Linked DNA regions of Homo sapiens: region 1 is linked to region 2. The links come from fine-mapping of genetic effects on gene expression. Tissue or cell type: whole blood. Region 2 holds a variant in brackets; the other region holds the start of a gene. All regions are shown on one strand. Distances are between the middles of the regions. Region 1 holds the start of WDR11 (WD repeat domain 11). Region 2 overlaps WDR11 (WD repeat domain 11).

Region 1 (5,226 bases), 55 kb before region 2:
AGCGTCTGAGAAGGCCACCACAGTCATTTCTTTCCTTCTGTCAGACATAATTCCTCAGTTTAGCCTTCCACCTCTATACAGTCTGATAACAGACCAGCCTTTATTAGTCAAATCAGCCAAGCAGTTTTTCAGGCTCTTAGTAGGTGTCAGTGAAACCTTTATATCCCTTACAGGCCTCCGTCTTCAAGAAAAGTAGAACGGACTAAAGGTCTTTTAAAAAGACAGCTCACCAAGCTCAGCCACCAACTTAAAAAGGACTGGACAATACTTTTACCACTTTCGCTTCTCAGAATTCAGGCCTGTCCTCAGAATGCTACAAGGTACATCCCATTTAAGCTCCTGTATAGACGCTCCTTTTTATTAGGCCCCAGTCTCATTTGACACCAGACCAACTTAGACTGTGCCCCAAAAAACTTGTCATCCCTATCTTTTGTAGTCATACTCCTATTCACCATTCTCAACTACTCATACATGCCCTGCTCTTGTTTACACTGCCGGTTTACACTGTTTCTCCAAGCCATCACAGCTGATATCTCCTGGTGCTATCCCCAAACTGCCACTCTAAACTCTTGAAGTAAATAAATAATCTTTGCTGGCAGGACTATGCTGAATCTCCTTAGGCACTCTCTAATCAGATGTCCTATGTCCTCCCAATTCTTAGACCTTTTATACCTGTTTTTCTCCTTCTCTTATTCCATTTAGTTTCTCAATTCATCCAAAACCGTATCCAGGCCGTCACCAATCATTCTATACGACAAATGTTTCTTCTTACATCCCCACAATATCACCCCTTACCACAAGACCTCCCTTCAGCTTAATCTCTCCCACTGTAGGTTCCCACGCCACCCCTAATCCCACTTGAAGCAGCCCTGAGAAACATCACCCATTCTCTCTCCATACCACCCCCCAAAAATTTTCGCCGCCTCAACACTTCAACACTATTTTGTTTTGTCTTATTAATATAAGAAGGCAGGAATGTCACGCCTCTGAGCCCAGGCCAGGCCATCGCATCCCGTGACTTGCATGTATACATCCAGATGGCCTAAAGTAACTGAAGATCCACAAAAGAAGTACAAACAGCCTTAACTGATGACATTCAACCACTGTGATTTGTTCCTGCCCCACCCTAACTGATCAATGTACTTTGTAATCTCCCCCACCCTTAAGAAGGTTCTTTGTAATTCTCCCCACCCTTGAGAATGTACTTTGTGAGATCCACCCCTGCCCACCAGAGAACAACCCCCTTTGACTAATTTTCCATTACCTTCCCAAATCCTATAAAACAGCCCCACCCCTATCTCCCTTCGCTGACTCTTTTCGGACTTAGCCCACCTGCACCCATGTGAAATAAACAGCTTTATTGCTCACATAAAGCCTGTTTGGTGGTCTCTTCACACGGACGCGCATGAAACTAACAATGTATTGGGGAGAGAAACACACATCTGCAAATATCATTGCTGAAAAGAAATCATTGCATTAAGTGCTATAGTTAAAGCGTATAAACCCAACACTGAACACAAAGGAGGGAAGGACTGGGTCTGACCTGGAGAGCAGCAGAGGAGAAAGTGCGAAATGAAAGGTACCCAGCAACAGACAAAGGGTCACACTTGGCCCCAGACATAGTGCTTCTTCCTCAAGTGCGAAGGGAGTATTGCAAACACCAGATATGCAGTGTTATCTGTATTTGGAAATTGTTTATATTCAGGCCATTCACTTCATTCAGTCTGGCAATTTCATTCAATTAATCTCATTCATTTCTTAATTAATCTCATTCATTATTCTCTGTAAACTCCACGAGAGCGGAGACTTTGTGTCTTCTTCATCGGTAGATCCCCCATGCCTACTGGCACTAGTAGTTGCCCTAAATTCACTTATCAAAGGCAGCAAGAATAACTGGGACTCTTCTCTCTTGCTTTTCACGATTTCCAGCAGGGCACAAAGGCCTACAGTCCCCACCTGAAAAAAACAGACTTGACTGGAGGCAGCGCCTCTTCTTCCAAATACAGCCCCAGCTGACGCAGATTAGCACAACCGCCTAAGCGGCGGAACTCTGGAGAGTGCGGAACCTAGGATCCTAGGAAACTGAAGGCAACGGAACCTGGGGGCGATGGAATCCGGGAGCGGTGGAACCCGGAGCCTGTAGAACTTGAATCTAGAGGAACCTGACAGCGGCGCCGAGGGGGCCACCCGGACTCTGTTTGGAACGGAAGCACAGTGTCCGCCGCTTCCTGGTTGCGGGTCAGCGCCCAGGTCCTGGGCTGGCCGCCGGGATGTTGCCCTACACAGTGAACTTCAAGGTGTCGGCGCGCACCCTCACGGGGGCCCTCAACGCCCACAACAAGGCGGCGGTGGACTGGTGAGGACGCCGAGCTTCCAGGTCGCCAGGATCGGCCAGGAATGTGTGAGGGGGAAGGGGGAAGGACAAGAGGTTTCACCCCCTGGTTAGTTTGGCCTCGCTAAGGCAGGGAGCCGCCCTCACGCAATGAGCTTGCTTTCAGTTGGTGGATTTTTGTTGTTACAAAAGTGATAATAGCCCCGTGTGGGAAATTCCCCCATGCAAATACATTTCCCCTCTTTCTCGCGTATTTCTCTGCTGTTTTCTCTGCACCTCGCCCTTTTGCCGTTCCATTCCTCTCTCTTTTCCTCTCCTCCAGCTTCCAGGCTTCTCTCTCTCCACCATTAATTCCCTGTGCACTTTCTCTTTCCCATCCTGTCTTTTCTTTTTCGTTGTCTTGTATTCCTGTTGTCTTTCAACAATGTGCCAGACCCTGTGCTAGGCGCCTGTTCTTTCACCTGTCCTTTTCACCTCTTTTCGGGCTCCTCCTGTGTAGAACATTCCTGCCTTCAACAGGTCGTCTTTATTACTCTCTCCTTTCACTATAAATTACTACTGCAGCTCTGAAAACTACTCATTAGACAAATGTAAAGCAAAATTCTGTGGCTGTGGGATGTTGTTAGGAGGACTGAAACGTCTTGTGCAGTGTTTGTCGTTTTATTTAGTTGGAAGGACTAGGATTAGTCGCAGTATCCCCAGGCACATTGTGGATACTAAGGATTAGAAATCGGATAAGCGAAAGACGTATGCCTACAAGAACAGTCAGAGGGCACAAGTTCCTTTTTATGTCCTCGGGTCTCTATTTTCATATCTTTTAGAACTTTTTTTATCCGAATGAAAAGTGAATTTCAACAAGCATTTTAAGCTTAGCCAGATCTTTTATTTAAGTGGGATAATGATAAATACTGGCCTTTGGGTTTAAATGATTTTATTAATGGTGGTACATATGAATTAGACTTATCATTTATTTAGGCTTGGCAAGAAAGAAGTCGTCCTGCTTTGTTCTGTACTTAAACTTTAACATTACTGTTTTGCTAGGGGCTGGCAAGGTTTAATTGCTTATGGATGTCATTCACTTGTGGTAGTGATTGATTCCATTACTGCCCAAACTCTTCAAGTTTTAGAAAAGCATAAAGCTGATGTTGTAAAGGTAAGTAAAATCCCACTTTGACGCTAACATGTTGTCTAGTCTAAAGTTTAATACTGTGTATCACTAAGCTCTCATTAAGTCTTACGTGTAAGTGTTGAATAGCTTTTAAATATAACAACCTATTTGGGGTAGCCTAGAATTTTCATATATATGACTTAATGTCAATACAGGGTGAGTTATTAAATGCTAGTTGTTAGATCATTTTAAGGCAGATGAAAGTTCTACCATTTACAAGACCACTCAGTCATTCCTTAGTTTTGAGCACTTACCATATGCTATGGATATGGAGATGAAAGCCCTCAGATAATTCTCCATCTTATAAGGAAGACTCACAGCGTGATAGTGTGATAAGTGAGACTTGCGTAACACGCTGTGAGAAAACAGAGGAGCTGCATATTGCCTGGTTGTGAGGAGAGTCACAGAAGTCTACAGTTTCAAGACTAGTAGACAGTAGTTAGCCAAGTAAAAAATTGACAAGGAGCATTGCAGGGAAAAGCAAGAATATACACAGAAGTAAGTAGCGTGCCATAAAGATGGCTAAAGATGGGACACTTGTAGGAGTGATGAAATAAGAGGCAGCCAGAGAGATTCAGCTGTCTGTCCTGAAGTTTTGTAAGATTACGAAGGAGTTTGGATTTTTTTTTTTTTTAGACAGAATCTCACTCTGTCGCCCAGGCTGGAGTGCAGTGGCATGATCTCGGCTCACTGTAAGCTCCACATCCTGGGTTCACGCCATTCTCCTGCCTCAGCCTCCTGAGTAGCTGGGACTACAGGCACCCACCACCATGCCCAGCTAATTTTTTGTATTTTTAGTAGAGACCGGGTTTCACCATGTTAGCCAGGATGGTCTCGAGCTCCTGACCTCGTGATCCACCCGCCTTGGCCTCCCAAAGTGCTGGGATTACAGGTGTGAGTCACCGCGCCCAGCAGGAATTTGGATTTTTGAGTAGGAGATTGATGTGACCATATTCGCGTCTTAGAAAAACTCTGGCAGCAGTGGAGGATCTGCTGAAGAAATGCAAGACTGGAGGCAGTAAGATCATTTAGGAGATTTCTGCAGTAATTTTGGTGGGAAATTCTAAGGGCCTAAAATAAAGCTGGGGCATGGAGAAGTCATGTTTAAGAGCAGCAAAGAGGTAAACCTGATAGCCTTTATAGTGATCAGTATAAAGGAGAGTAAGAGAATAGAGTGACTCCAAGGTTTCTTTTGGTGTAATTGAATGACAGTGTTTCCAGTTATCAGAGGTAAGCATCTGTGAAGTCAGTGAATTTTTAAGTTTTCAACATGCAAAATCTGAGATGCCTGTAATATATTGCATTATAGTGATCCGGGCTTTAGGAGATAGGTCAGGATTAGAGATAGAGATTTGGAGTCTTTTTCTTTTTTAAATAATAGCTTTATTGAGATACTCATACCATAAAATGTACTGACTTAAAATGCACAATTCTGTGGCTTTTAGTATATCCACAGTTAATGCAGCCACAATTACAATGAACTTTTTTACCTCAAAAAGAAACCCTATATCCACTAGCAGTCATATTCCATTTCCCCCATTTCCCTCATCCTTTGGCAACCACTGACCTACTTTCTGTGTCTGTAGACTGGCCCATTCTGGGGATTTTATATAAATTGAATCATATAATTTGTGGTCTTTTGTGCATGACTTCTTTCACTTAGGATAATGTTTTCATGGTTCATCTGCGTTGTAGCATATATCAATACTCTGTTACTGATGAATAA
Region 2 (5,494 bases):
TTTCATAATATTTTCCCCTTGTATGTACCTCCTTCCCTGTAGACAGTTTAGGCTTTCTTTCAAAATAATACCAATAAACCTCATGAGAAAAAACATATGGTTAACCAGCTTGTAATTTAGACTTCCATAATGCCCAGTGGAGCCCAGCTATTTGTTTTGTTTTGTTTTTGTGTCTGAATTGACTGGTACAAAGCTAAAATAGGCAATTACTCGAGCACCTAGATACACCAGCCTCTGGCTTTATGTTTGTCTCAAAAAAGTAGTGTAGCACCTCTGTTTAATGTTTGTATTTGTAAACAAAATATTCAATTGCATTTTTTGAAAATGAGTGTTTTCCTTTAGTTTTCTACCTTATGAATTTTAAAAAGTTATGTTGGAGGAAAATGTTCTCATAATTAGAAAAACCGTTTCTCTTACTAGACAGACAGAGCTGTGCAGTTGCTGTTGGAAACAAGTGCAGATAACCAGCATTATTACTGTGATTCACTGAAAGCCTGTTTAGTCACTACTGTCACCTCGTCAGGCCCCTCTCAGAGCACCATTAAGTTGGTGGCAACGAATATGATTGCCAATGGCAAATTGGCAGGTAAGGCACACTTGATATGTTTGTCATCTCTCTGAAAAATGAGACCTTGTTCCCAGCAAAGTATCTGATTAGTAGGGACATTTCTTTCTCTTTTACATATGCTGAAGAAAAATAGAAAAATTATTGCTACCTATAAATCAGATGAATATAATTGTCTAAACCAGAATTAATTGTTTACACTTTTCAGAGTGAAAGGGGGCACTGTTAATAATTGCTGAGATAATAGGCATAAATCCAACAATCCTAGGCAAATCAGAACAATAAAACCTGTGAGAGAACTATGCTCTCCCTACTTATTCTCCAGACTGTATTGTGCTTCCTACCCTGGTTACTTGAGTAATAACAGTAAAACTCTTAATATTATGTTTCAGAATTTAAATCAAGAATGTCTTCAGTAGGTATAAAATGGGCACGACTAGATAAGGTCAAATGGGGATTTAACTTTTTAATGACTTCTCAAAGAAGGAGCTGCAGTGTCACTTAAGGGGATGCGCTTTTGTCTTTCAGAGGGCGTTCAGTTGCTCTGCCTGATAGATAAGGCTGCAGACGCCTGCCGCTACCTGCAGACATACGGCGAGTGGAATCGGGCTGCATGGCTGGCAAAAGTAGGTGGTTCCAAGTTTCAATAGGTGCCCTCAACATTCGGGATAGAAAGCTCAGTCCTGAACTTTGGACTTATGACTTAGAAACATTTTTTGGCCTGCAAAGCTGCTTTGCAAATACTGTCTTGGAACCTTTATCCTTTTCCTATTCTTTATGAGTGTAAATTGCATTACTTATTTAAAAATGGATCTTGCATTGGTAGCAATTAAGTAAAAGCAGCTGCCTCCTCTTTCTCCCAGAGTCTGAGCCGAAACTACAGTCCAGAGGTATAGCCAGGCCCTGGGTCCCGTAGGCACAGACCGTTATCATTATTCAGAGTATGCAGCAGCTTCAGGGCAGTGTGCTAGTCAAGCAGAGCATAGCCTGTATTTCATAGAAACAGATCTCACTTTAACTGAATTATTATTTTTTCTTTATAGAGTGCAGGATGTTTTTGTTGTTAACACAGGCGTCTTTCTCAGGTCCGTTTGAATCCTGAGGAGTGTGCCGATGTTTTAAGGCGGTGGGTTGACCACCTTTGTTCTCCACAAGTCAATCAGAAATCAAAGGCTCTCCTGGTTCTCCTCTCTCTGGGCTGCTTTTTTAGCGTGGCAGAGACGCTTCACAGGTAAACCGAGAGTTCACATGGGCTGCTCAGGCCTGCCCGTGAGCAGTCACTTCATGTTCTCTCGCGGTTCTAGCAGGTCATGGTACTCGATGTGTAAAGTGAAAGGAGAAGTATACATTTCAGGTTTGTCAAAAAACCCAAAGGAGAATGGAACTGTCCGTATTCATTACATCTTCATTCGGTCTAGGAGCTATGCTAGTTTCCTACTAATATGCTGATCAGACTTAACAGGCACCTAGTAAAAGGGAATTTAAAAGTCTTCAGAGAATTGGGGTCCATTCAGCTTTGACTAGAGCAACTGAGAGGAGGC[C/T]CAGAGAGCAGGGGGAGAGGCGACAGAAGGCATGGTGAGGTGGAGACATCCCGTCTGAAAATCTGGAAGAGGAACAACCATCACTAATTGTGGAGCATTTCATTTATTCAAAACTAAGGGAGGTAGATTACGGAAATATGACAAAAGATTACTTGTCAACTCTGGACAGGGGTACATGGGCACTTGTCATATCTCTGTAGATTTTTGTGTATTTAAACTATTTCACAATTTTTTAAAGTATTAATTTTAAAAAGCTTGTGTTTGGAGATGTGAGTATTCTTCCCTCCTTTTTTCAACAAACTAGGGCTTAGAAAAGTGCTTGTATCTTAATGCAGTATGCAGGTTTCCAGGGAAAATGTGTAAATGTCTTTATACCCTTCGATGCTGCTGCCCACCAGTGATGTAAATCACAAAGCATAACTCTTGTTTTGTTCTGTTGAGCAGCATGAGATACTTTGATAGAGCAGCCTTATTTGTGGAAGCTTGCCTCAAGTATGGAGCATTTGAAGTCACTGAGGACACAGATATCCTTTGCAAGGTTGTTTGTAGTGACGAGGAAGAAAGTGACATGCATGGGTTTTGGAATTTCCCTTAGTTGTGCTGCCTGGACAGGAACTATATTATATTGTGAAAGATCCATGTTCTGATTTTCTGATTCACCAAAGCCAGGAAAGAGGGAGAAATTAGAGGACAAAGAATCAGATAAGAAGGTGGCTGCACCATGGGTGTCAGCTTTGACTAGGATGGAGGGAGGCAGGAAGGACTATAGAGGACAGGGCCCCCAAGTCTTGTCTGAACTTAAAAAGAAGATGAAGGAATGATTTGGGAAACAGGTAGAAGGACCTGGTACTTTGAAATAGTACTTTTTCAAGACCAGACATTCCATGGAATAAATTTTATATATTTATCTAGAAAAAATATACTGGAATAACTAAAAAAGTCTCACGATCACCTCTAGTGACAATATGATATGGGACAAAATACAGCACTTAAAGAGAGGTGTTGCTCAGGCCAGCCACTATAATCCACCCATCAGCCAGAACATTTTATTTCTTCTAAATGGCACTTGAGCAACATTGGTTTCTTTGAAAAGAATGAACTTGAGAATGCAACTCCCAGGACCAGAAAAGAATGAAACTGGGCCAGTGCTTGCATGGTCCTGCTGCTGCTCACTGCACTTTGCTTCAAATTCTTACATTTGCTCTCATTTCTACATGGCAGGTACTTGGTTCTCTCTCTCTTTCTCCCTCTTTCTCTGTGTGTGTTTATAATTTTTTTTTTTTTTTAACAGAGAATTAAAACTAAACTAAAAATTTTTTTTTTCCTTTTTTTGAGGTAAGGTCTCACTCTTCTGCCCAGACTGGAGTGAGTGGCACGATCATGGCTCACTACAGCCTTGACTTCCTGGGCTCAAGCAGTCCTCCCACCTCATCCTCCCCAGTAGCTGGGACCATAGGTCCACACCATTGTGCCTGGCTTTTTTTTTTTTTTGGTAGTAACCCGGGTCTCACTATGTTGCCCAGGCTGGTCTTGAACTCCTAGTTCAAGCAGTCCTCTCACCTTGGCCTCCCAAAGTGCTGAGATTACAGGCATGAGCCACCCAGCCCTGCACTGAAAGTTTTTTAAAATTAAACTGAAGGCTGAGCCTACTCAAGATCATGTACCTAGTCACTGGGAAGGTGACTGGTTCAGTGTATGCATTTTGAGGATCAAAGCATCAGCACAGAGTACCCAATAGGCTGTTTAAAAAAATAAAAATAAATAAAAAAAAACCAATAGGACAGGGCTTTCTAAAAACCCAACAACCAGATATAGGGAACATTCAGAAATAAATATCTGCCCCCAAACTGCCAGCCTCTCAGACTTTCAAATGGAATGAGGATATGCAGGTTAAGTTTCTCCTCTCTTATCATTCATCTTCCAATCTTCAGTTGAGTGTAGGTTATGGGAGGATGTTGGTTGGGTCTTCTGGAAGGAGAAGCTTTGGACTCAGCTGGTACGAAAGGTAATGATGGTACAGACTGAGACATGGCCTACTATGGCCGGGAATCACCCTCTGCCCGCGAAAAGTCTCCTGTGTTCATCCTGTGCTGCCCGCTGTGGACACCAGGTCCCTTCCGAGCAGCCAGCAGAGCAGACGCGACTCACCCTTCCTGCTTCTGGGAGCCTGTGAAGAGTCTCATCACAGCCCTTTTTACTCTTCTTTTCCTTAACTATGGTTTACAGAAACTCATCACTGCTATATATGCAGATTATGCCCGGAGTTTGAAGAACCTCGGTTTTAAGCAGGGAGCAGTTCTCTTTGCTTCAAAAGCCGGAGCAGCTGGCAAAGACTTATTGAATGAGCTTGAGTCCCCCAAGGAAGAACCCATTGAAGAGTGACAGCTTAATAAATGCCAGGGAATCTGACCTGGAAGGCAGATGGGAGGGGGCTGGTCTGGCTGTGGCCACCGTCACAGTCCAGGATGAAGAGGAGTACAGGGTCCTGTGAGCTGTTTGACCACTGTTCTAAGACTATGTGTGCCCAAAAGCACATAAGCATCTATGTTGAGAGTAAGTTTGTATCCTGCGTTGGTCTCAGAAAGAACGTGAATGCTTAAGATTTTGAAAGTACATAATATTTTATACTTTGGGAGAGAGCTTTAAGAGTCCCTGGAAATACTTTTTAATTTTTTTAACTTAAAATTCAAGAGACTGAATCACTTTTCTCATTGATTAAATGTAAAGATTATTGAGAAACCTATAGTAAATGAAATTTGTGAGATGTTTTCTCAAATATATGCTGTGCCTGTACTTATATACAGTCTTTCAAGAGAGATACAAACAAGGCAGAAACATTTAAACTAGTATTAAAGGTAGTTTACCAAAGCATTTTTTGTTTTCTTACCTTGAAAACACAGAACCGTTAATTCCTTGGTTTAAGCAGTTGCTAAGTTTTGTAATTTTAGGCTCAGAGGACCATAGGAGGTTTTAAGATTTATGTTTAGTCCGATAGGTGAGGTCTTTGATATTTTGAATTTTAACTCCTTTTATGATACATCACAGTAACCTCATTTTTGAAGTCTTTCTTTGTACTTTAATGTTCTCTCTGTTCTAATAGTTGAAGTATGAGATGTAACTATTATAAACTGTTGCTGAAAACATAAATGTCTGTAACTTACAAACATGATAAATAAATTAAAAATTCCATCCAGGCCTTTGTGTTCTCTGCATTGCTGTGCATGAGGCCAGGTCATGAGGTGGCTCCTTAGGAGTCATCTGGTCGCCCAGCCTCTAAAGCCTGGCTGCTCCTGCTGTATCCAGAGAAACCTGTATGTGGGAATCCCATGGGTGCGGTACAGGGCAGGAATGACACCCACACCCCGGGCAAGTCTACCTCTGAGTTCCC

What was found. PIP is the estimated chance that this variant, and not a neighbour inherited with it, causes the effect.
Region 1: it holds the start of WDR11, and the variant in region 2 is fine-mapped to the expression of WDR11 in whole blood (INTERVAL, PIP above 0.99).

What each region holds. Positions count from the first base shown.
Region 1 is chr10:120,849,151-120,854,376 of GRCh38, forward strand. It overlaps WDR11 (WD repeat domain 11), which reads left to right and starts at 2,212. Exons shown (of 29, transcript NM_018117.12): 1 at 2,212-2,356; 2 at 3,374-3,485. The coding sequence starts at 2,271. WDR11-DT (WDR11 divergent transcript) reads right to left here and starts at 2,029. Exons shown (of 3, transcript NR_033850.1): 1 at 1,544-2,029. RefSeq lists enhancers at 1,854-2,398, 1,877-1,996, 2,157-2,626, 2,399-2,942, 2,637-2,696.
Region 2 is chr10:120,904,226-120,909,719 of GRCh38, forward strand. WDR11 (WD repeat domain 11) reads left to right here. Exons shown (of 29, transcript NM_018117.12): 25 at 421-586; 26 at 1,094-1,191; 27 at 1,651-1,796; 28 at 2,551-2,630; 29 at 4,331-5,299. The coding sequence ends at 4,488. All of the region lies in intron 2 of LOC105378519 (a long non-coding RNA gene), which reads right to left. Among named protein-coding and RNA genes, the nearest start is that of WDR11, 56 kb to the left of the region's middle. The variant C/T (reference allele first, on the strand shown) is at 2,107.